Linked DNA regions of Homo sapiens. The protein of the gene in region 1 binds, or shares a complex with, the protein of each later gene. Each region holds a gene or a part of one and is shown on either strand. Other genes may lie near its edges. The genes, in order: MALT1 and BCL10. A codon is read from its position in the direction of its gene.

Evidence for each region.
Region 2: the proteins of MALT1 (region 1) and BCL10 are in contact, whole or in part, in a cryo-EM structure (PDB 6GK2), measured with the Homo sapiens proteins. Residues at the interface, in NP_006776.1 of Homo sapiens: Asp46 (codon at 7,640), Gln47 (codon at 7,643), Ala48 (codon at 7,646), Pro49 (codon at 7,649), Trp54 (codon at 7,664), Arg55 (codon at 7,667), Leu74, Glu75, Ser78, Leu79, Val81, Leu82, Glu83, Pro84, Glu85, Gly86, Pro88; in NP_003912.1 of Homo sapiens: Leu13, Lys17, Val83 (codon at 5,814), Arg87 (codon at 5,826), Asn93 (codon at 5,844), Gln97 (codon at 5,856), Thr100 (codon at 5,865), Leu104 (codon at 5,877), Arg107 (codon at 5,886), Asn108 (codon at 5,889), Leu111 (codon at 5,898).

Annotation. Positions count from the first base shown.
Region 1 is NC_000018.10:58,664,140-58,676,583, forward strand, and holds the start of MALT1 (mucosa-associated lymphoid tissue lymphoma translocation protein 1), read left to right. Parts: upstream 1-7,325; 5' UTR 7,326-7,504; coding exon 7,505-7,713; exon of another isoform or gene 7,714-7,734; intron 7,735-8,473; exon of another isoform or gene 8,474-8,720; intron 8,721-12,444. UniProt on the Homo sapiens protein: Protease that enhances BCL10-induced activation: acts via formation of CBM complexes that channel adaptive and innate immune signaling downstream of CARD domain-containing proteins (CARD9, CARD11 and CARD14) to activate NF-kappa-B and MAP kinase p38 pathways which stimulate expression of genes encoding pro-inflammatory cytokines and chemokines.
Region 2 is NC_000001.11:85,265,054-85,276,530, reverse strand, and holds the end of BCL10 (B-cell lymphoma/leukemia 10), read left to right. Parts: 5' UTR 1-178; coding exon 179-235; exon of another isoform or gene 236-515; coding exon of another isoform or gene 516-731; exon of another isoform or gene 732-1,365; coding exon of another isoform or gene 1,366-1,368; intron 1,369-5,624; coding exon 5,625-5,913; intron 5,914-8,548; coding exon 8,549-8,904; 3' UTR 8,905-10,755; downstream 10,756-11,477. UniProt on the Homo sapiens protein: Plays a key role in both adaptive and innate immune signaling by bridging CARD domain-containing proteins to immune activation.

The DNA.
Region 1 (12,444 bases):
GCTGTCTATATCCATATGAACAAGTACATATAAATGTCTTCCATCTCATAAAGCATTGCCAAACTATCCTTTTCTATCAGGCCTCAACATTTCTACCTGAAAATTAACTGCAAGGATGTTTTACTACATTATAATATACCCTTCCTACCCAAGTGGTGTCTGCTCTAAGATGTCAACCACCTTTTGCAATACACTATTGCCCTTTCTGCAAATTGGACAGTTTCTTCAGAATTTACAACTTCTGTTTCAATGTAGGAGCCAGGTGGGATGCTTTACGCAGAGACAGGGATGGGTGGAGACAGACAGAAATACATGCAGTCTCCCTATAAAGGTTCTTCAATCCCATACCTCAATGTATACAAATCTGTAAAAATGTATACATGGATAAACATACATCAAATAGAGAAATCCCAAAGTTCACTTTGGGGAAAAAAAAAAGAAAAAGTTGCCAACCAGTCTAAGCAATACTGAAAACCACTGTTGTCTCAAATAATTGATGAATCTCTTACCTTTTTCTTGTTGCTTTACCATTTTTAAAAAATGTGTCTGAAGTTTTACAACCATTCCTGGATGTGAAGTGGAACGATAGTGGTTTGGGGCATCAGCTGGGGTAGGTCAGGGGGATAGGAAAAGCAGAGGAGAGTCAGTGCCACCTGGAGAGTTGATTGAGCTGAGAGGAGAAGTGGCAGCACCTGTGAGTTTTGAGATCTACTAGGTATGTTCTAAGATAGCACTTTCTAAAGGAAAATCCATAGAACACTAGTTCTGGGACACACTTAGCAAAAACAGGCCCAGTAAGTAAAGAAGTTTGGAGACACTCTATATACCGGTGAAGCCACAACATATTGCAGTTTCTTAAAGGCTCTGAGACACACAGAAAAGAAACCTGAAAAACTTTAACACAGCGTTTACCAAATTAGTTTTGCCATGGAGCTCTTTTTGTAAGTAATGCACTAATAATGTGTTTCAAGGAACTGGTGTTCCCCAGGACATAACTTGGGAAATTTTGCTCTAGAGCAACTGGATACTCTTGCAACCATTGTTCTTATATCCCTGGACCTTCAAACCCTATTATTATTATTTTGAGACAGAGTTTTGCTCTTGTCACCCAGGCTGGAGTGTGATGGCGCAATCTCATCTTGGGTCGCTGCAACCTCTGCCTCCCGGGTTCAAGCGATTCTCCTGCCTCAACCTCCCAAGTAGCTGGGATTACAAGCATGCATCACCAGGCCTGGCTAATTTTTTGTATTTTTAGTAGAGATGGGGTTTCACAATGTTGGCCAGGCTGGTCTCAAACTCCTGGCCTCAAGTGATCCGCCCGCCTCGGCCTCCCAAATTGCTGGGATTACACGCATGAGCCACCGCACCCGGCCCTTCAAACCTTATTCATTCCTCCTAGTGTTCCAAGCCCTCATTCAACCACAGCTTCTCACAACTCTCATTTCCTTTTATTAGCCACTTTTCTTTCCAAGACAATGTCTATCCCATCCCTTGAATGCCACATATTAAAATCCACCTCCTGCACCTTTGCCCCTTCTCATTTCCCCCACTTGGAACATATCCATCCCTTCCTTCAAGATCCAGCCCTAAACTCTGACTATAGGAAGCCTTTTCTGAAGAAGTCCACTTACATGGAATGTTCAGTTATTTAAATTCTGCTTTATTTAATCCTAGTGTATCACAGAGAAACTGCTGGTGATACAGTTACATGAATCTTCTCTTGGGAATAATTTGTCATCTCTACCTTTCATACTTACTCATTTAACAACCAGGCTAAATCTAATACCATTGCCCTCTCTACTGCACGTTTACTATATTCCATACACCAGAAATGTTTGTTTCATTTCCTTCTGACTAAACCAAGTAGAATGTAGAATAACACATTTGAAAGTTGGCTGAGGCGGGTGGATCACCTGAGGTCAGGAGTTCGAGACCAGCCTGACCAACAGGGTGAAACCCTGTCTCTACTAAAAATACAAAAATTAGCCGGGTGTGGTGGCGCATGCCTGTAATCCCAGCTACTCAGGAGGCTGAGGCAGGAGAATTGCTTGAACCCAGGAGGCGGAGGTTGCAGTGAGCTGAGATCGTGCCATTGCACTCCAGCCTGGGCAACAAGAGCAAAACTCTGTCTCAAAAAAAAAAAAAAGTTTAAACATTCTTTAAAGTATAGTGATTCATGCAACCAGGCACAGCCACAGACTAGTAAAAAATAATCCCAAATATTTGTTCAGTTTGCCCCTCCTCTCCATGCCCAATGTTGTGGCTCTTGGTGGAGGCCTTTTTTTCCCATCTACATTACCAGAATACTTCTTGGACTTCCACTCTTTCCCCTCCCCACATTGCTGCCCGAGAGATGTTTCAAAAATCCAAAAGTGAAATCACTATCCTGCTTAAAATATTTCAATTACTCTCCATCACTTAAAGCAGTGTTTCTCAAACTGTAAACATTTAGCTTTAGGGGTTTTGACATATCCACATACCACCTGTTCTCTTGGGTATTTAATATACTTCCTTAAACAAAATCAAATTTTAACAAGTAAATTTGATATAGTCCTAATCAATACTATTAGTTGAAATGGCAATTTTGATTGGCAGCTATTTTTCTTTTCTGTATTAATGTATAACTATTAAGATAAAAATGTTCATCCATGTTATGACTTAAAAGCATCTTGTATAACACCAGTGGGGCATAGATGGCTCTGTGGTAGGTATGTATCTACAGAATAAAATCTCAGCTTTTGGCATGACATAATCTGGTCTTCACTGCCTTTTACATCGTGGTCTCTGTCCCTTTCCCATCAGTATCCCCAGCTCTCCTGGAGCAACTGCAGTTCTCCAACCTTGCTGTGATGTTTTCTGGCTCTGTGCTTTTATAGTATGGTATTCTTTTTTTTTTTTTTTTTTTTTTGGAGACGGAGTCTCGCTTTCTCACCCAGGCTGGAGTGCAGTGGCACGACCTCGGCTCACTGCAACCTCCACCTCCCGGGTTCAAGCAATTCTTACTCAGCCTCCCGAGTAGCTGGGATTACAGCTGCCTGCCACCATGCCCGGCTAATTTTTGTATTTTTAGTAGAGACAGGGTTTCACCATGTTGGTCAGGCTGGTCTTGAACTCCTGACCTCGTGATCCACCCGCCTTGGCCTCCCAAAGTGCTGAGATTACAGGTGTGAGCCACTGCGGCCAGCCTACAGTATGGTATTCTTTCTACCCTGTTTCCCAAGCCATCTCCTCTCATCTTTCCACATGGACTGAAGGGCTCTCCCCTGGATTTGTATACTTCTTGCTATCAACAGAGCACTTACTCCTCCTGTTCCTTGTCTTAAGCAGACATCGGGTTTGGTCAACATTGTATTCTGCAAACTCTAAGGGAAAACTGGTGAAGACCGAACTGTGGTGTGGGAATCCCGCCTAGCTCATCTGCCTGGGTTGTCTTTATCTTTGTCTCATGACTAGGCTACTTTACAACTCTGAGATCGCAGTGAACTTACAGAAAACTGATAGTGATGCAAGTGAATCTTGTTTATAATTAAATAAATTGTCAGGTGGAGGTTCAATTGCATTCCCTCCTCCACTGTGGAAGAAGCTAGTTTTGCATCTAGGAAGCAACTTCATTTCAGTGGGCTGACATATTTATCTGGTCTTTGGGTTCTCCTCTGAAGTAATTGTAACACCTTTCTGATTCCCTTGTTAGTTAATGAGTTAAAATCTCTGATATGTGTTCATTGCATATTTGTTGCATCATGATTTAAACTTTCTTGTAGAAACTATTCTTAAGACCGGACGCGGTGGCTCATGCCTGTAATCCCAGCACTTTGGGAGGGCCGACATGGGTGAATCACCTGAGGTCAGGAGTTCAAGAGCAGCCTGGGCAACATGGTGAAACCCGTCTCTACTAAAAATACAAAATATTAGCTGGGCGTGGTGGTGTGCACCTGTAATCCCAGCTACTCAGGAGGCTGAGACAGGAGAATCACTTGAACCTGGGAGGTGGAGGTTGCCGTGAGCCGAGATCGTGCCATTGCACTCCAGCCTGGGCAACAAGAGCATAACTCCGTCTCAAAATAAATAAATTAATCAAATAAAAACTATTCTTTAACAGTATGTATTTGATACAGAGCCTGGTGCCCCAAGAATATGTGTTCATGACGGAATGAATGATTGAGTGAATGAATCAATTTAGACAAGTAGGTGTAGACTTTCCATGGTCAGGATCAAATATTTAGGTCTGGATGATTCATCATGAAGGAAGAGTGTGGAATACTAGCATGATGCCTAGCTACTATTACAAAGTTGAAATCGAAATGAGAAAATTTCCCTAATCCTTTGGAAGATGGTGGCAAGAATGGGCTGCAGGGGATGTGCTGAGCCTGTGTCTGTGGGTCACCTGAGTGGCTCCTACAGAGGCTGAGTCAGAGAGGTCACAAAGTGGGCTGAGCATGGAATAAGGGATGGCAGACAATGAATGCCTTTTTTTTTTTTTTAGACAGAGTCTTGCCCTGTTGCCCACACTGGACTGCAGTGGCACAATCTCAGCTCACTGCAACCTCCGCCCCCTGGGTTCAAGTGATTCTCCTGCCTCAGCCTCCCAAGTAGCTGGGAATACAGGCGCGTGCCACCACGCCTGGCTAATTTTTTTTGGTGTATCTTTAGTAGAGATGGGGTTTCACCATGTTGGCCAGGCTGGTCTTGAACTCCTGACCTCGTGATCTGCCCGCCTCAGCCTCCCAAAGTGTTGGGATTACAGGTGTGAGCCACCACGCTCGGCCATGAATGCCATTTAAGCCACATAACTCCTGCTTCCTTTCCCTCCATTGTATACAGATCCAAGGACCAGCAGGTTTTCTCCTGCACTGAGTCTTTTAAACCCTGTCCAACTGTGAAATAATATATCATTCTGGCGTTTTTTTTTTTTTTAGTTGGAGTACCATCTATAGTTAAACTGTATAAAGGAAAAAAATCCTATGAGTCAGTTTCCAGACCTATGAGTGCTTTGAAGATTACATCAATGGAGTTCCATATATTGAAACCACAAGCTTCCTGCCAATTGTCTGGATTTACAAAGATCTATTTCACTTTGAACTAATGAGGAAGAACTCCCAAGGCTATTATCTATAGACATGCATGAACTTTTAAGGGACATTTAAAAGCCAGATCTTTACCCCCAATTTTTCTCCTATCTTTATATAAACATAACGGTTAATATAGAAAAGAAAGCTGAATTACTATTTACATTGTTCCCAAAATTGATGTAGCAGTTTTAAGAGTACTAATATACAATGCACATACTTCTCCCTGACGCTATATAACACTATTAGGTACTATTATTTTCCACTTTTTACAGGTGTGGAAACTGAAGCTCAGAGAGGTTAAGTAGATCACCTAAGTTCCACCACTAGACTAGTAAGTGGCAGCAACATCAAGTTTCCAATTCAGGACTAACTTTAAAGGTCACATTCTACTATACCATTATGCCCATAAGAGAACCACAGGAGTGAAATTATGTCATAGAAATATTAACATTTGATTGAGGAGAGAAAAAGACCAGTCAAAAAAGGTAATGTCAGTTTGGGTAGAGGATGGAGGGTGGCGGGTAGTGACTGGATAGGGTATAAAATTGCTAGGTGGAAAAAAAGGTTGGGAGTAGGGTAAAACGAGGGAGGCAGTCACTTGGGAAGCCAGGGTGGGGGCGTACAACTCGAGGTCAAAACAGTGCCCAGCTGAGCTATATTGGCTAAGAGTAAATAACACTGGCACCCATTTAACTCGTATGCACACGAGAGGTTGCATAAGCAACGCTTTGTACATGGCAGACTTTTCTAAGAAGTCTAAATTTAGAAGACCTCTGTTGAATTTAAATTAAAAGGCAGGATTCCAGTAAAGACTAGAAGATTTTATTTCCATAATTGGCACATGCAGGTAACAGATCCTCAGAAAATATTTGTACAGTAATTGAGGACAAAACAGGAAGGCACCTGAAGCGGTTGGGAAAGGCTTGCCAAGTCAAACTGAGTATGAAACGGCACTTGTATGTGTAAGGGTAATAGCATTTACTGAGTCATCTACGATGTGCCAGTTACCGAGTTAAGTGCTTCACATACATCAACTCCTTTAATTCTGGCAACAACTCTATATAAACTGTATTGTCAGTCCTGTGTTAATAGATGAGGCAGAGAAATTAAGAAACTTATTCAAGCTCCTAACACTTGAATCGAGCAGATCTTTCATGCTCTTAGCCATCTCACTGCAGTCTGAATTCTTAACTTATGCTAGAGTGAAGTTTAATGACTGCTTGTGCTAGAATGTGGTGGAGACTGTATGGCGCACCTACCTCGCCAACATGTATAAGAATATAGGTATCCAAATTACTGGTCAGAAAATCCTGCGGCCTTGGGTGATGAAAAGCTAATGGCAACAGAAATTGGGCCAGGAAGCCTCGTGTAGGGAACTACCTGACTGGTCACATTTCGTAAGTTACTTCCTTTTTGTCCCAAACGAAGCCATAGTTTTCAAAGGGATAATGGCCTTGGATGTTGCTAAGATTGGCAGAGAGAGCTCAGGTGTCGTCCATTCCGGATCATTCCAGGGAAAGGCATCCTCTACAGGGTTGCCTGCTTTGATGACGGAGATTGCGGGCGGCAGTCTGACGCGGTGTAAACCAGATGATTCCTGCTAAAAACAATCATTTCCAAGATCTGATTAGCCCTAAATATGCCACAGCTCAGTTTGCAAAGTAGTAATTGTTTAAAAGTCTAGGCAAAGATTTTGGCCAATTCCAACTCAAGTATCCGGATCTCCAGCACTACTTCCCTCTAGCAATGCCATACACATCTAACCCTAAAACGAGGAAGCGTCCGCTGAGGTTGCCCACTGCAGGATGCTGGTGTGTCGCCGGGCACATGAAAGTCCCTGAGTCAGGGGAGAGCGCTCGCCGGGGACTGCGGGCGGGAGCCGGCGACTGAGAACCGCTTGCCCCGCTCTCTGGCGTGAGTACGCAGGCCTCCTCCCACGGTCTCAGGAAGCCCAGACGCCGCAGGCTTCCCCGCCGTAGAGGAGCTGCCGGGGCGTAATTCCTCCACCGCTTCCTCCTCCAGCTGCACCCACCCGTCCTTTCCTGCTCGGGAGGGCTGGGTTTGAAGCGCGCGCCACGGCCAGCCCGGGACCGCGGGGGAGGGCGAGGGAGGCGCGCAGCCGCACGCACGCAGTAGGCAGCCCCGCCCCGCCCCTCGAGGCCCAAGGTCCCGCCCCTCGAGGCTCCGTGCCCCGCCCCCCGGGTGCCCCGCCCCTTTGCGCGGCTGGCGCGGCCAGCAGGCCAGGCTCCCCTCGGCAAACCTGTCTAATTGGGGCGGGGAGCGGAGCTTCCTCCTCTGAGGGCCGTGCCGCGCTGCCAGATTTGTTCTTCCGCCCCTGCCTCCGCGGCTCGGAGGCGAGCGGAAGGTGCCCCGGGGCCGAGGCCCGTGACGGGGCGGGCGGGAGCCCCGGCAGTCCGGGGTCGCCGGCGAGGGCCATGTCGCTGTTGGGGGACCCGCTACAGGCCCTGCCGCCCTCGGCCGCCCCCACGGGGCCGCTGCTCGCCCCTCCGGCCGGCGCGACCCTCAACCGCCTGCGGGAGCCGCTGCTGCGGAGGCTCAGCGAGCTCCTGGATCAGGCGCCCGAGGGCCGGGGCTGGAGGAGACTGGCGGAGCTGGCGGGGAGTCGCGGGCGCCTCCGCCTCAGGTGAGCTCAGGGCCGCGGCAGGCCGGGCGCGCGGGTCGAGCGGGGTGGGCTGCGGTGGGGAGGTGGGGGCGCTGTCGGTGGGGCTGAGCGCGGCGGGGGCCGCCGGCGTGAGTGAGCGGAGGTGGGGAGGACTTCGGTCATTGAGGCGGAGCGGAACTCAGCAGCTCCCCGGAACGCCTGGGGTTTGAGAGCGGGGCCCAGGGCTCTGGAGGGTGGAGGCAAAAGTGGCCCAGCGGCTGCCTCGCTCCCTGTTCCCACCCCCGCCCCTGGTGAAAGGGAGAAGTCGAGGTTGACCCCGGAGGATAGTGAGAGAAGGAAAGCTGTCAGGGGACCCCTAGGATGGGGCAGTCATCCAGAGGACTTAAAATGCAAAAGAAAGGGATGTGGACACTGCTCTGGGAGACCTAAGGAAGGCTGGGAAGAAGCGCAGGCGAGGTGATGAATGCAGAGGGTGGGGTGCAGGAATTCATGAACATTTTGCAAGGTATTGGGAAAGACTGACGCCGAACTCATCATCTCCCTCCATCAAACCAGGTTACCACGTTCTCTTCTTGACTTCACCATGAACATGAAACTCGAAGTAAAACTATTTTCCTTGTTAGGTTTGGAATGGCTGTATTAGGGTTCCTGAAGTTTTGGTCTCGAGACTCCTTTACCCTCTTAAGAATTATTGAGGACCCCAGAGAGCTCTTATGTGGGTTAGAGATAATACATACATGTAATACATACTGATATTTACCACCTTTGAAATTAAAGCTAAGACATTTAAAAAATATTAATTTATTTAAAAAGAATAACCCATTATATGGTAACAGAAATAATACTTTCGTGGAAAAACAAATTTTCCAAAACAAAAAAGTCTATTAGAGAAGTGGCATTGGTTTTCATTTTGAAGATCTCTTTAATGTCTTGGCTTAATCACAGAGCTGGATTCGTTTATGTGCTTCTGCATTCAGTCTGTCGCACTATTACAGGTCACAGAACGCTGGAAACTGCAGTGTCCACTCCTGAAAGAATGAATGAAAAAGCTAAATAAAGTCTTAATATTGTTATGAAAAATCTTTATGACCTTGTGGACCCCGCGAAAGGGTCTCAGGAACTGCACTAGGGGTTCCCAGACCCCACTTAGAACCATTACTTTATACCATTGTTGTAACTTTGGCCTGCCTTTGAACCCCTTAGCAGTTTTTTGAACTTCTCAAATGACAAAGATTTGTCTTACAGTATAATTATTTGTACACATCTTTATAAATGCCTTAAGAACAAAAACTGTCTCTTAATATTCTGTTATGTATAGAGGTTAGTAAATACTTGATGAGAGGAAAGTCATTCATTCAAAATGGTATTTATTAAGTGCTTATTATTTGCTAGAAATTTTAGAAGATAAAAAACTAACAAATATTCAATTCCTAATCATAAGGGTTTATCCAGGAATGGACTATTATTTGGGGACCTTTACAATAACATATTAAATGCTGTGTTGGGTATGAATGATAATGGATTTTTATCTTTTATTGAGGACATGGTATGTACCACAAAATATACTAAATGTTTACATGCTGCTGCTGCTGCTTCATTCTTCTTTATTCTTCTTATTTTTGCATTATCTTTTTTTTTTCCGAGATGGAGTCTTGCTCTTTCGCCCAGGCTGGAGTGCAGTGGTGTGATCGTGGCTCACTACAACCTCCGCCTCCCAGGTTCAAGCAATTCTCCTGCCTCAGCCTCCTGAGTAGCTGGGATTACAGGCGTGCGCCACTACAGCCCGCTAATTTTTTTGTATTTTTAGTAAAGACGGGGTTTTGCTGTGTTAGCCAGGCTGGTCTTGACCTAAGGTGATCCAGCCGCCTCAGTCTTCCAAAGTACTGGGATTACAGGCATGAGCTACCCTGCCTGGCCACATTATTTTCTTAAACCCTCCTGACAACTCTTGTTTCAGAGTTTGGGATTGAGGCAAAGGATAATAGTGACTTGGGATTATTGCTTGTGCAAAGGAGTAATGATGTGAGGAGGGAATAACTAGCAAGGCCTAGCAGAGAAGTGGCATAATTTTTTTCTGTTCTAGGAAAAACACGTTGGGCTTTTGGATATGCAAAAAAAACAAATACAAAATATTGTTATGCTAGGTACATAAAATTTTGAATTTCTGGACTTACCATAATGTAAAAAATTGTCTTTGGGGGCAGATCTCCAGAGTATTACGGTGCTAACGAGTACTCTGGTTAGGGAAGGTTCTGGGCTTCCTGAAGAAAGCCAGGTATGGAGGACTCCTACATGGCCATGAAGGAGAGAGAAGAAAGTCAGCAAGGCCCTGCCAGGGAAGAAGCGTGGCTGCTGGAATCCAAAAGCAGCGGATACTTGATGTTGGGTGTTGTGTTTTCCTCGCCTGCCTTCAGTCAGTTTTTGTTAAAGGCTACAAAATGGTCTTAGCTTTGTTTGGGGGAACTAAAGGAAATATTTGAGGCCACTTTTCTGTGGAGTCACACAGAGAGAAGGGGACAGTTGCCTAACAAGAGGTGGCAAGCACAAAGGGCATGCAGTTGTGGAATCTGAGAATTTGGGGTGGGAAGTCTGATGAGAGGCAGATGAGTTTCACCTGTCTTTCAAGATGGTAAAGATTAGTTTTGAGGAGGTTGGCTGGGGTGAGAAGGGTTGGAGAATTTGGGAACGTTAAGCTCATCCCTATGGAGATCAGAAGAATTAAACGGACTTTTTTTCAAAAAACAGCACTGGGAGCTTGGGGGCTGGACAGTGAAGCAAGGTCAGCTGGGGATGCTTACTCTATTTAAGACAAAAAAGTTATTGTAAAGTGATTTCATGCTGTTGGGAGAAGATCTGTGATACTAGAAGGTCCTAAAGGTATTTTTTCTCTGGTGCCAAAGACAGGAATTATAGTGTGAGTGTCTAGTCCGTGTGGGTGACAAGTCCCACGAGGCTGTGAAGTGCTTTCTTCAGTCACTGGATCTGCAGCCCTAGAATCTCGAAATGTTGCCCATTCTGTTTCTTTTTCTTCTCTTCACTTTTTTTTCTGACACTTTACATCTTTCCTCAAACTGGGTGAAAATTTAATAATACAAATAAGTAAACCACAAGAAAAGAGCCCGTTCAAACTGTCTACAAGAGATTAGAAATAATTGTAAATGTTTTCATTGCTGATGACTCAGAGTAAATCCTTGTTGATAGCTTAGTTCCCCACAACCATGTACATTTGGGAATGTGCTATAGTCAGACCCGGCCCTGATTCCATTCAAGACTGACCTGGACACCCTTTGCTGTTAGTGTAGATAGACACAGACTCTGAGGGTCTTGCCCAAGCTATGTAAATTCTTTGGTGGCATGGAACATCTGAGCCCTAAGGATGGCAGACCTTCCAGGAGGTTCTAAATGCTGCCTAAAATTCTGTTAAGTAGGGAGCTTAGAAATGGGGCTGTGGAACCTGGACCATGGAAAAACAGTCATTGCATACCTGCTGAGTAGAAGGTGCACTTTTAGCTGCAGAAATCCTGCTTTCATGCAGTTTATTATAGGAATGAGAACGTGTAAAAGGCTCTAACAGAAGGTTTCCTCCCAGCCTGGGAAACATACTGAGACCCTGTTTCTACAAAAAAACAAAAAATTAGCCAGGCATAGTGGCACAGGCCTGTAGTCCCAGCTACTCTGCAGGCTGAGGTGGGATTGCTTGAGCCCAGGAGTTCGAGGCTGCAGTGAGCCTCAACAATTATTATTGAAATTCATTCAGTAATCATTCATTTATGAATAATTAATATGGACAAGACAGAATTTTATTGATTTAGGTATTGTCAACCTCCAGCATGGTCGACAGAGAAGACCTTGTCTCTAAAACAAATAAACTAAAAAAGGTTTCCTTCTCGCCCTCTTGGTCTTATCCTTCAGTCCCATGACTTTACATTTATTTGGGTTGATTACTCCTAATTTCTATTTCCAGCCCATTTCTCTGCTTTGAACTCCTAGATTCACGTATGTAAACACTTGTTTGCCATCTTCTCTTGAATGACTAAGACACGTCTTAAATATAACATGTCCAAAATTTAACACGTCTTCCCTTATAAACCTCTTTCTTTCAGTTTCTGCACCCTCTGGTTGTTCAGTCCAAAAACTTCGAATTCATTCCTGACTCCACTTTTACACACAAATCGTTTTTGTCAGCCCATCCTTCCTGCTGTACCTTCACTATATATATGTAGAATCCAATGTCCACTGCTGGCACGCTGGGCCAAGCCACGTTGTCTCTCAACTAGATTATTCCAGTAGCCACTTAACTTCTCCCTGTTTTGCTTTGCTCCCACCCCAGTCTGTTACCAATATAGCAGTAAGAATTATTCTTTTAAAACATCACATCAGGTCTTATTCCTCCTCTGCTCAAAACTCTCCTATTGTGGCCAGGCGTGGTAGCCTCACACCTGTAATCCCAGCACTTTGGGAGGCCAGGGTGGGAGGATTACTTATGCCTAGGACTTCAAAACCAGCCTGAGCAACATAGATAGACCCCATTAAAAAAAAATGCCAACTCTCCTATTGTTTTTCCATCTCAGAGTAAAAACACCATTAGCTACCAGTTCACTCTTCAACCTGATATCTTCTTGTCTCCATCCCTCTCTACTCTGGTCACATGTGCTTTCTTGCCTTCCTTTGGACACAGTAGTCTTTGTACTTGCTGCCTACTCAGGCTGAGATGGTCTCCACAGGTAACCACATGACTTGTTCACCTCACTG
Region 2 (11,477 bases), on another chromosome or scaffold:
AGCGCTACGGTTTGACCCCCGAGTCCCTCTGTTCCCGAAGGGGCGGCCGTCTTTCTCCCGACCCGCTCCGCCTCCTCTCCTTCTTCCCCATTACCCGGAGGCCGAAGCCCCCAGCCAGGGCGGGGCGGCGCAGCCCGAGCTCCCGGACCCGGAAGAAGCGCCATCTCCCGCCTCCACCATGGAGCCCACCGCACCGTCCCTCACCGAGGAGGACCTCACTGAAGTGAAGAAGGACGTGAGTAACGCAGCTGTGCCCAGGGCGGGCGGGGGCGGGCTGCAGCCCAGCGGGAGACGAAAGCGGAAGCCTGGAGTCCGAGGACAAGGAGGATCCTCCAGGTCGGAGGAGCGGAAAGTCCTAGCACAGGAGGACTGTGGCGAGCCCTGCATCCGAGGGACCTTGGTGGCAGTGATCCTCCAGTGATCTGTCAATCCAGGTTTTACATCGCTAAACGCAGAGCTTGGGCTTTGTTGCCAAGTGGTGTTTTGATTCTTGCCCACTCCTCACCCATCTCCTCATGCTTTCCCCCCAACTGGGTTCTTGGAGATGCTTCGTTAGGGACTGGCGGCTCAGATTCATCCTTAAGTCAGGCTGCCTAGGCTGCTCACTCAGCCTAGAGCGAAGGCTGTACCAGGTGAAGGATCCCAAGCAGTGGACCAAAAATGTGAAGCTCTTTTGCATAAGGGGGCTTGAGGAAGCTCAACAGCTGAAAGCACAACCTGGAATTCCCCTAGTAAGCAGACGCCCACATATTTAAATTGGGGTTGGGGGAGTGAATACACGTAGCTGAGAATTAATGTACAGGTAAACGTCGAAAATATTCAGTAGCTAAATTATGCTCTTCTCGGATGGTGCAGAACCACATAAACCTTCATATTTATTCGTAACGAATGGCTTTGTTGAGATATGACATTCTTTTTCCTTTGCGTTTACTTGTTTTGTCAGATGAGACCTATATGAGTATCACTAAAATACTTTATCTGAAGTCAAATGAAAAACAGAAACTCAACATGAAACGTGTTCTTATTGAACACTGCAGTACTTTTACAAAGTCATTTTGATGAACTGGACAGGATGGCAACTTTTTAAATGTTCATCCACTTCAAATCCCTTCCTCTTCCCTGTAAGGTTTATTACACTGTACTCACAATTGGTGTGACTCACCAGCAGAAGGAAACTGGATATGACTGGGAGTTGTGCTTAGTTTCCTCATTCAACAGAGATTTATGGAGCACTTGCTATATGGAAAGCACTGGCCTTGGGTCTGGAAGGATACAAAAAAATGAAGATCAGTTTCCTGCTTTACATTCTAGTTGAGATAAGAATGGAACATAAATAACTACTGTAGAATAAATGTTGTCTTATTCATGGTGAGTGCCAGTAAAACCTTGAACTTCCAAGAGCTAGGCCTCCTATGTTCCAGATGCTGTGTCACACAGTTTACAATGTTCCCACTTAACCTTCGCAACAACCTCTAAAGAAGATAATTGCCATTCCCATTTTACAGCTAATAAAACAGGAACTGAGAAATTACAAGTGGAAGGAAATAAGATCTGTATACAAGTACAGATGTGAAGAGTGGCTTCCAGGTCTTTGTTCTTCTCTGTCAATTCATTGATGTTATCTGTCTTCAGGATTTCATTTTACGCCTATATCAGAAATAAATAACCTTGAGGAAACCATGGATGGGTTTCAAAAGGTCTATGAAAGAAACTATGTGCATGCTTTTTTCTTAGAGGTTTTTTTCATGATATTTTCAAAATGTCTTCTGATCTTAGAGAGTTTTAAAATTATCCACATATTTGGACTTTTCTCTCCACTCTAGGTCCTTATTTCCAAATGTCTACTGGAAATCTACTTTTATATCCTACAGATTGCTCACCTTGTCAAATATTGAACTTTTACTATCCTTTTCCCAAAGTTGCTTACTGTTGCTGCTGTATTGCCTTTCTTGATGAATGGTGTGCTACCACCCTTTGTCTTGGGACCTCCCACTTCTTTAGTGTCTCCCCCTCCTCCTATCTAGTTATTTGCCTCATTGTGTTAGTTGGATTTAGTACAGTTTAATAAATATGGATTACATGCTACTGTGAGGCTGATACTGTGGTTGGTTCTAACAGTTCAAAAATTAAAAATGAAAACACAATCCTAACTTGAAAAGAGCTCAATTTCTTGAGGGGGATTGTTTTAAATCACAAAATAAGTGCAGTGAGTTTTGCATTCAACTGAAACATTAACTACTTGGTGCCCTAGTAAGTGCAGGATATACAGTGTTGGCTAAAACATACCTCGTAGCTGCCTGCTTCAAACAGAGACGTTAGTTTAAAACAAATAAATAAATTTTGTTTTCATTATTGCAATTACTATGAAGGAATCAAACAGTGCCAAGACAATAATAGGGGAAATCGACTTGAGATAGGATGGTCAGGAGAGGTTATATTTAAACTGATTCCTGAAAGATTTGACAGAACTGAGGGAAGAGCATTCTGGGCAGAATAGAATTTGTCAAGGACCTAAAATAGGCAAGACCCTGGTGACTTGGGGAAATCGGAGGAAGGCAGAGGGTAATCTGAAGTGAAGTTAGGAAGGTGGGCTAGAGCCATTTTCATGAAGAGCCTTTTAGTAAAGTATCTGGGGTTTTTTTCCCCCCAAGTATAGTAGGGACTTGTTGAAGAATTGTATAGTTTAAAGATCCCTCTGCCTGTTTCATGGACTGAGGAGAACAAGAATAAGAACAGGGAAGCCAGTGAGCAGGCTCTTGGAATCTATAGAGATGAATGAGGATGGTGATTTGGATCAGGGTGAAGGCAGTGGAGATGAATGGAGCAGAATTCCAGATGCAGTTTTTGAAATAGAAATGATATGACCTGGTGATGGATTGAACATGGGAGTTGAGGAAGAGGATGTAATTAGATTAGTACATGGAAATGTCAGATCAGCAATTACATCTGCAAAGTCAAAGATCAGAAGAGAGATCTGAGCTAGAAATGTAAGTGTGGAATTGAATGATTTTACCTAGAAAGCTGTGAGCTAGAAGAGAAAAATGGTGTAAAACCCTTTAAAGAGAAGAATTTTAAAAAGTGAATTGTTAGCTTGAAAGTAGGGTAACAACAACAACAAGAAAATGATTGAAAAGTTGTATCCACAGGGATGGGAAGAAAACCAGGAGAGTGTGGTATTCATGTAACAATTTTCTTGTTTCAGGGAGGGAGTAGTCAACTGTGTTTATGCAGCTGAAAAATGAAATGAAGACTGAAAATATTTGGCAATAAGGGGGTCATTGGTGACTTCGAGAAGAATACTGGGGCAGGATGGAAATGTCTGGGAATGAATTGGGAAATGAGGTGAAAGAAGTGGAGTCCTGGTGTATAGAAAGATGAAGTGTATACACAAGGTGCTACAAGGACAGAGGACGGGGTGCCTAACTCATTCTGGGGAGTTAGGTAAACCTTTCCAAAGAAGATGACCACTGACCTAAATCTTAAAGGACGAATAGGGGCTTTAGGGTCTGATAAAAGCAGACAAAAAATACGTAAGGAAATGTAGAGAGACAGATAGTTTTAGGTAGAGCATAAATTTTCAGGACAAAGGTAGTGATAGATTAAGCTGGAGAGGTAGGTAGGAGCCATATTATCAATGAACCTTGTCTTCCATAATTAGTTATTATTGAGTACTTACTGTGTACAGAGACTATGCGTGGCCTTCATATATAGTATTCCCATTTAGTCCTCCTTGATGTCCTGTGAGTTAAGTTTTTAATCCTTATTTTATCAATAACATACCTGGAGCTTGGAGTGGTGAAGTAACTTGGCCCAGCTCTCACAAGGGTGAGTACTAGATTCAAGATTTGCACTGAGGTTGATCCAACTTTAGAGCCATGCCCTTAACTTTTCTACTCTTCTGCCACGTAAAGGAACTTTATCCTTTAAGACAGGGCAGAACATTGTTTTTAATTTTTTTTCTAAATTAACAAAATTTCAATATTAGAATTTGCTGGGCACAGTGGCCCACACCTATAATCCCAACAACTCAGGAGGATAAGGTGGGAGGATCACTTAAGGCCAGGAGTTCAAGACCAGCCTAGGTAATGTAGCAAAGATCCCTTCTCTACAAAAAAAAAAAAAAAAAATTAAAAATTAGCCGGGCATGGTGGCTCACACCTGTAGTCCTAGCTACTCAAGAGGCTAAGATGGGGATCACTTGAGTCTAGGGATTCCAGGCTGCAGTGAGCTATGATCAAGCCACTGCACTCCAGCCTAGGTGACAGAGTGAGATCCTTAAAAAAAATTTAGTAAAATTCATATAATACTCCAGATTTCCATTTTCTCCTGAAGGAGAAATGTTGAGGAGGGGGAAGGAAGTAGTAAGTGCAGCTAGGTTTCTATTGTTAATAGTCCATGCCAGATATGATAAGGACCAGGTCCTGGACATAGTTATTTGCTCACTCTGTGCTTTTCCTGTATTTGACCTATAATCTTTTTTTTCTGGGCCCGATCACATTGTTTTATAATTATTACCTGTGATATGTATTCCCAGCTAGACCATGAGCCCTTTGCATGTAGGATTCAAATCTTGTTCATCTTTGTATACTCAGTGCTCAGCACTCGGCATATTAGGAATTTAGATTTGTAAAATACTTGTCATGTGAATAAACAAGTAAATGTGGAACTTCGTAGACCAAGAACCACAGGAACCCTTCACCTAGCCTACTTTCCTGCCATTACCTTTGTCATTATTACTAACATATATTGATCACTTACTATGTACCAAGCGCTTTTCTAAGCACTTTGCATATCTTTATTCCTCATATAACAGTCAGCTGAGGAAACAAGCACAGAGGAGTTAATTACTTGCCCAAGATCATATATCTAGTAAATAGAGGAGCTAAAATACAGTCACCGGTACCAAATTATTAATGCCATTTATTGAGATCAACATGGATTTTCTACTAATTAAGCTCTTAGGCACTTCTCAAATCTAGGTTTGCTTTTTTGTGGTGTCCTTTTTCTTTATTTCTTTCATTTTTCGAACACTCCCTATTCCCCACACATCTTTCCATCTCCCTTCCACCAAGACTGATTCACTGAGTTAGAGTGTAGTCTTTCCAGCTGACCCCAAAGACAGATACATTATGGGCTCTTTCAGTTTAGGGTTTTGTTTTTTGTCTTTAACAGTTTAAGGAAATGGAGTAATTAATAACAAACATGAGAAAGTTACAGACTGTGAGACCTCTCACTAAGTTATTGGTCCTGACTAATTCTGCATTCCTTGCCAACTGATAGCTAAAATGTACAGTAGTGTTTGCCCTCATCTTTACTCCCGAAGATGGCCCTCAACAGACCTCCCTGTTTCCAAGGACCCAGGCCCTCTAGATTCAGCTGGTCCCTCTTCACAACAGCCTGGTCTTGGTTTTTAGGTTTGAAGGTGAGATCAAAGCAGTGAGGAATGTCTAGGACCTACTTGTGTCTACTTGGACTTTCATCTTAATTAGCATGCATTTTAGAAGGCCTGAGCCTCCTGACTTTAGAACATTGTCTCACACCAGCTAAGACTGCCAACTAATAGTCACGTATGTGATTTTCTTAGATGTTAAAAATAACATTGAACCATATTTTATGTCTTTTAGGCCTTAGAAAATTTACGTGTATACCTGTGTGAGAAAATCATAGCTGAGAGACATTTTGATCATCTACGTGCAAAAAAAATACTCAGTAGAGAAGACACTGAAGAAATTTCTTGTCGAACATCAAGTAGAAAAAGGGCTGGAAAATTGTTAGACTACTTACAGGAAAACCCAAAAGGTCTGGACACCCTTGTTGAATCTATTCGGCGAGAAAAAACACAGAACTTCCTGATACAGAAGATTACAGATGAAGTGCTGAAACTTAGAAATATAAAACTAGAACATCTGAAAGGTAAGATATCTTAATTATCTAAGAGCTAATTTAAATGTAATAATGCTTTTAAAAAATGCAGAGCAGGCCAGGTGCCTGCACTTTAGGAGGCCAAGGCAGGAGGATTGCTTGAGGTCAGGAGTTTTGAGACCAGCCTGGGCAACATAGCGAGACTTTGTCTCTACAAAAAATTAAAAAATTAGCCAGGCATGATGGTGCATACCTGTGTTTCCAGCTACTCAGGAGGCTGAGGTGGGAGGATCACTTAAGCCTGGGACATTGAGGCTATAGTGAGCCATGATTGTGCTACTGCACTCCAGTCTGGGCAACAGAGCAAGACCCTGTCTCAGAAAAGCAAAACAAAAACAGAAATGATCATTTTGCTTTCAAAAAGTTTAAACTTCAAAATTATATTCAATTTGCACTTATTTTACCTTATTTGACACTATTACATTGAAAAAGTGGAATATCTCTCAATATCCTGTATTTGTATTCATTTAATACCATTTATAGAAAACTATTATGAAATCCCTGCATACATAAGGATTTGTTTCTAAAGTCAGTAGAATGTAAAGTTAATCTATTCAAGAGTAAGCTCTGAAAATACTGTACATCACACATAAAGAACAGTATTTAGGCAAAGTATTGTAAAAGTCCAACTCTGCTAGTTTTTCTTATGATCACCAGTTGATCACAAGATGAAGTAATTGGCATATGTTTATAGGAATCACGTTGCATAAAATATTCATGACTTTAAACTAGTCTGGCAAGATGTGAAAGCATGGAAACAGATTAAGAGAATAGCAGATTCACCTGTCCCATTTCACTCTCACTCCAGAATATACACTCACTGATTGGAATATTGTGTGGAATTGCCTACACAATTTAAATCCCCAACCCCCTCCTGCCTCTGTTCCTCACTGTCTCTCTCCAGAGCACATAAATGTGCATGTGATGTTCTACAGCTCTTCTAGGCATTAGGGATACAGAAAAGAATAATTTAGGGCTCTGCCCTTAAGGAACTCATAGTCTATAAGTGTCCCCTTGCTGGGACACATTACAAGTTTTCCCTTTTGAGCCATATCTAAGAAAGTAGTTTGTATAGCATGGAATAGACATGCTGACTGTACTGTGAGGTTGAAAAACTAGTGGAAGAAGTGACATGTAAGTGCCCTTTATAGACTATGCAGGTTTTGCCTAAAAATTGTCAACTCAGGGTTTCTGTGCCTGTAGGTTGAATATTTGCTAAGCCTAACAGAAGGGTAAATTGTGTTTGTGTTTATTCTTTCAATCCTCTGGATAATGGTTAACTATACCCTTTGGATATCATAAAATTCTTTGATGGTATCTAAGTTGTTTTCTGCTGTAGCAATACCTGAGACTGGGTAACTTTTAAAGAAAAGAAATGTATTCATTTCTTACAGTTCTGGAGGCTGGTTAAGTCCAAGACCATGGCGCCAGCATCTGGCAAGGGTCATGCATGGTGGAAGGGCAGAAGATGGAAGAGCAAGGGAGGGCAAGAGTGTGAAAGAGAAGAAAAAGGAGTCGAACTCCCAAAATAACTAACCCATTCCCGTGATAATGGCATTAGTCCAGGGCAGAGCCCTCATGACCCTGTTGCCTCCCAAAGGCCTCAGCTCCTAACACTGCTGCAGTGGCAACCAAGTTTCCAACATGTGAACTTTTGGCGGATACATTCGTACCACAGCTAATGGGAACAACCACTGTCATTTGAGTAAACTGTGAGGTTGAGAAACAGGACATTATCTATTGAATTGTAGTTCTCACTTTCCCACAAAGTAGTCCTGGAATGTTGGACATGACTTAACTGTCCTGTGCCTTTTTTTTCTCTTTTTTTTTTTTTTTTTTTGAGACGGAGTCTTGCTCTTGTCACCCAGGCTGGAGTGCAATGGCATGATCTCAGCTCACTGCAACCTCTGCCTCCCAGGTTCAAGCGATTCTCCTACTTCAGCCTCCTGAGTAGCTGCGATTGCAGGCACCTGCCACCACGCCTGGCTAATTTCTGTATTTTTAGTAGAGATGGGGTTTCGCCATGTTGGCCAGGCTGATCTCAAACTCCTGACCTCATGATCTGCCCACTTCGGCCTCCCAAAGTGCTGGGATTACAGGCGTGAGCCACCATGCCCCGCCCTTTTTTCTCGTCTTTAATAATAAGAGACTATCCTAGGTGACCTCTAAAATTCCTTTTAGTTCTAATATCCTATTATTCAAGAATTAGCCATTGTCATTGATCAACAGATAGAATTTTAGCATCTGCCGTTTACATTTTTTTATTAGCTAATATTTTTTGTACCAGAATACTAAAGAATATTTATTGTGAAAGCTATTTCTTATTTTATAAAAAATTTTAGGTGGTTAAGTTTATATGTACGCTGTACCTTAAATGAGAATTACAGCATGTCGTTTAACTTCCACGAGACTATTTTGTTATATAGAAAATGCAAATAATAGTATACTTCATGGTTGTTGAGAAAAGCAAATTAGATTTGAAATAGATTATGACGGAAATTACAAGTTGCTATTTAAATTTTGATTGTGGGGTAACTAGCTTGTAATCTTTAACAAGTCACAAGATGGACAGTGACTCCATTTTTTTAGTTACTTTTTCATTTACATCTGAATAATTTTATTGTAGGACTAAAATGTAGCAGTTGTGAACCTTTTCCAGATGGAGCCACGAACAACCTCTCCAGATCAAATTCAGATGAGAGTAATTTCTCTGAAAAACTGAGGGCATCCACTGTCATGTACCATCCAGAAGGAGAATCCAGCACGACGCCCTTTTTTTCTACTAATTCTTCTCTGAATTTGCCTGTTCTAGAAGTAGGCAGAACTGAAAATACCATCTTCTCTTCAACTACACTTCCCAGACCTGGGGACCCAGGGGCTCCTCCTTTGCCACCAGATCTACAGTTAGAAGAAGAAGGAACTTGTGCAAACTCTAGTGAGATGTTTCTTCCCTTAAGATCACGTACTGTTTCACGACAATGACACTTTATTGCCTTTTAATTTTTAATGATGACAAAAAATGTTTTAAAGAATATGACTTTTTATAAAATGGCTGTAATCATTTGTTTACATTTGATGCATGTCTTTTAAAATGCAATGTAAGCATACTTTGTAAATAGGATTTTTAGAATTAAAAAAGCATACTTCTAGGATAGCTAACTGTAAATCATGTTGATCATGTACTTTTTAGTAATTTCTTTTTTTCCTTTTTAAGGTCTTTCAGTACTTTTTTAAATATTTTCTATTTTAAGACTGATTTTAATAGGGAATATATCTCTATTTGAGAATAGACCCTTACTAGGAAGAACGTTTTTTCCTCAGTGCATTTGTGCTAGAAATTTTCAAGAGTCTAATAGTCTTTGCCAGTCATTCAGCAGCAAATTTTCAGCATTAAGCTGTTCCTGTTCAGTAATAAAACCGGTCACTGATGGGAAAACTGCCAATATAGAAAAATAAAAATCTCTTTTCCACTCCATTGTCGTATAGGCATGTAAACAGCCTCTTTTTGATACTGGAGGAACACTTGATGGAGTGTGAGCCACCTAAGATCTCGGTTTGCCAAAATTCATTTCTAATTAACCTTACTAATTATACTACTTTGTTAGGATTTTCACATTCTTGGCTTAATCATTTTCATTCCTAAAGAAAAATATCTTGGCCTAAACCTCAGTTATTACATGTAATTTGATGAGGTATTTTTTCCTTTTTTCTTTTTTTTTTTTTTTTTTTTTTGAGACAGTCTTGCTCTATCGCCCAGGCTGGAGTGCAGTGGCGCATTCTAGGCTCACTGCAACTTCTGCCTCCCATGCTTACGTGATCCTCTCACCTCAGCCTCTCAAGTAATATAGCTGAGACTACAAGTGTGTGCCACCATGCCTCACTAATTTTTGTATTATTTTTGTAGAGACGGTGTTTTGCCATGTTGGCCAGGCTGGTCTTGAACTCCTGGACTCAAGCAACCTACCCAGCGTGGCCTCCCAAAGTGCTGGGATTACAGACACGAGCCACCTCACCTAGCCTGATGAGATTTTTAAAAAATATTTTCTCTGTACTTTTCATTCTCTTTTAATGAGGACCAATGTACAGTTGAAATAACTGGAACAAATTATTTTTGGTGTGTGTGACAATTCTGTTTTTAATGCTATTTGAACAAGTGGGCCATTAGCCAGATTTGTCTTTTTGTTGTAAAACAAAATTTGACTAATTTTACATGTTTATAAATCTTATGCTCTCACTGTTTGTTTTTATTTAAATTACAATTTTATCTGTTTCCTGACATTGTCTCCTATATATTTCTATTATTAATTGCAAAAACATAGAAATGGAAATTTTGCTATCAACAATAAAATTTTTTTAAAGTAGTGAGTGCTATTTTGGAGTTCCAAATTTTCAGTAGGAAGTATCTAAAACTTTTTTTAATACGTGCCATTATCTATAGAAAACATTACTTCAGGTTGTGAGATTGAGTTGCATTTCTGGATGGACTGATGAATTTATCCGACATGAAGAAGATTGGCATATTAGCTTTAAAAATTTTTAAAGATTGGATTTTTTTTAGTATAAGCACTTTCTAAGGATTATAGAGAAATGTTTCACCTCCAATGCATAGCAAAAATAGTGGTGTTAGAAAGAAAATAGGTTACATTTAAGGAAGGTGCTTTAAAAAGCAGAAGCAGACTTTAAAATTAAATTTGTGGACACCTTTTTAAAAATTGAATCAAAGATTATAATTTAGATATACAATAACACCTATATATAGATAAGTTTTAACACTGAGTTTTCTTTCAGACTGTTTTCTAACTACATAGACAATAAAATTAAGCTTTGCATAAAGCTAGGTTTGTGGGTTTTTGACTTCTACAAAGTCATTTTTTTTCCTTTTAGCCCTGAAAACTAGCCATTGCCAAAAGTGTGTAATTTAGGATGACTTGACAGGATGCAATTTGTTAACTAAGTTCATTAATGCAGCACAGAAAAAGTTACTTTTCAGGGATACCATATTATCATAATACAAAAACACGTTAGTTCATTTTTATGTATATGTATATATTTTTAATACTTTATTTTTGGAGCAGTTGTAGGTTTACAAAAAAGCAGAAAATACAGAGTGTTTCCAAATACCCCCTTCTCCCTCAGTTTCCCATACTATCTTGCACTGATGTGGCACATTGGTTATAATTGAGTCAATGTTTTGTTTTGTTTGGGGTTTTGTTTTTTGTTTTTTGTTTTGTTTGTTTGTTTTTTGAGACAGAGTCTCGCTCTGTCACCCAGGCTGGAGTGCAGTGGCGCGATCTCAGCTCACTGCAAGCTCCGCCTCCCAGGTTCATGCCGTTCTCCTGCCTCAGCCTTCCGAGTAGCTGGGACTACAGGCGCCCACCACCGTGCCCGGCTAATTTTTTGTATTTTTAGTGGAGACGGGGTTTCACTGTGTTAGCCAGGATGGTCTCAATCTCCTGACCTAGTGATCTGCCCACCTTGGCCTCCCAAAGTGCTGGGATTACAGGCATGAGCCACCACACCCGGCCAATCTTTTTTTTTTTTTTTTTTTTTTTTTT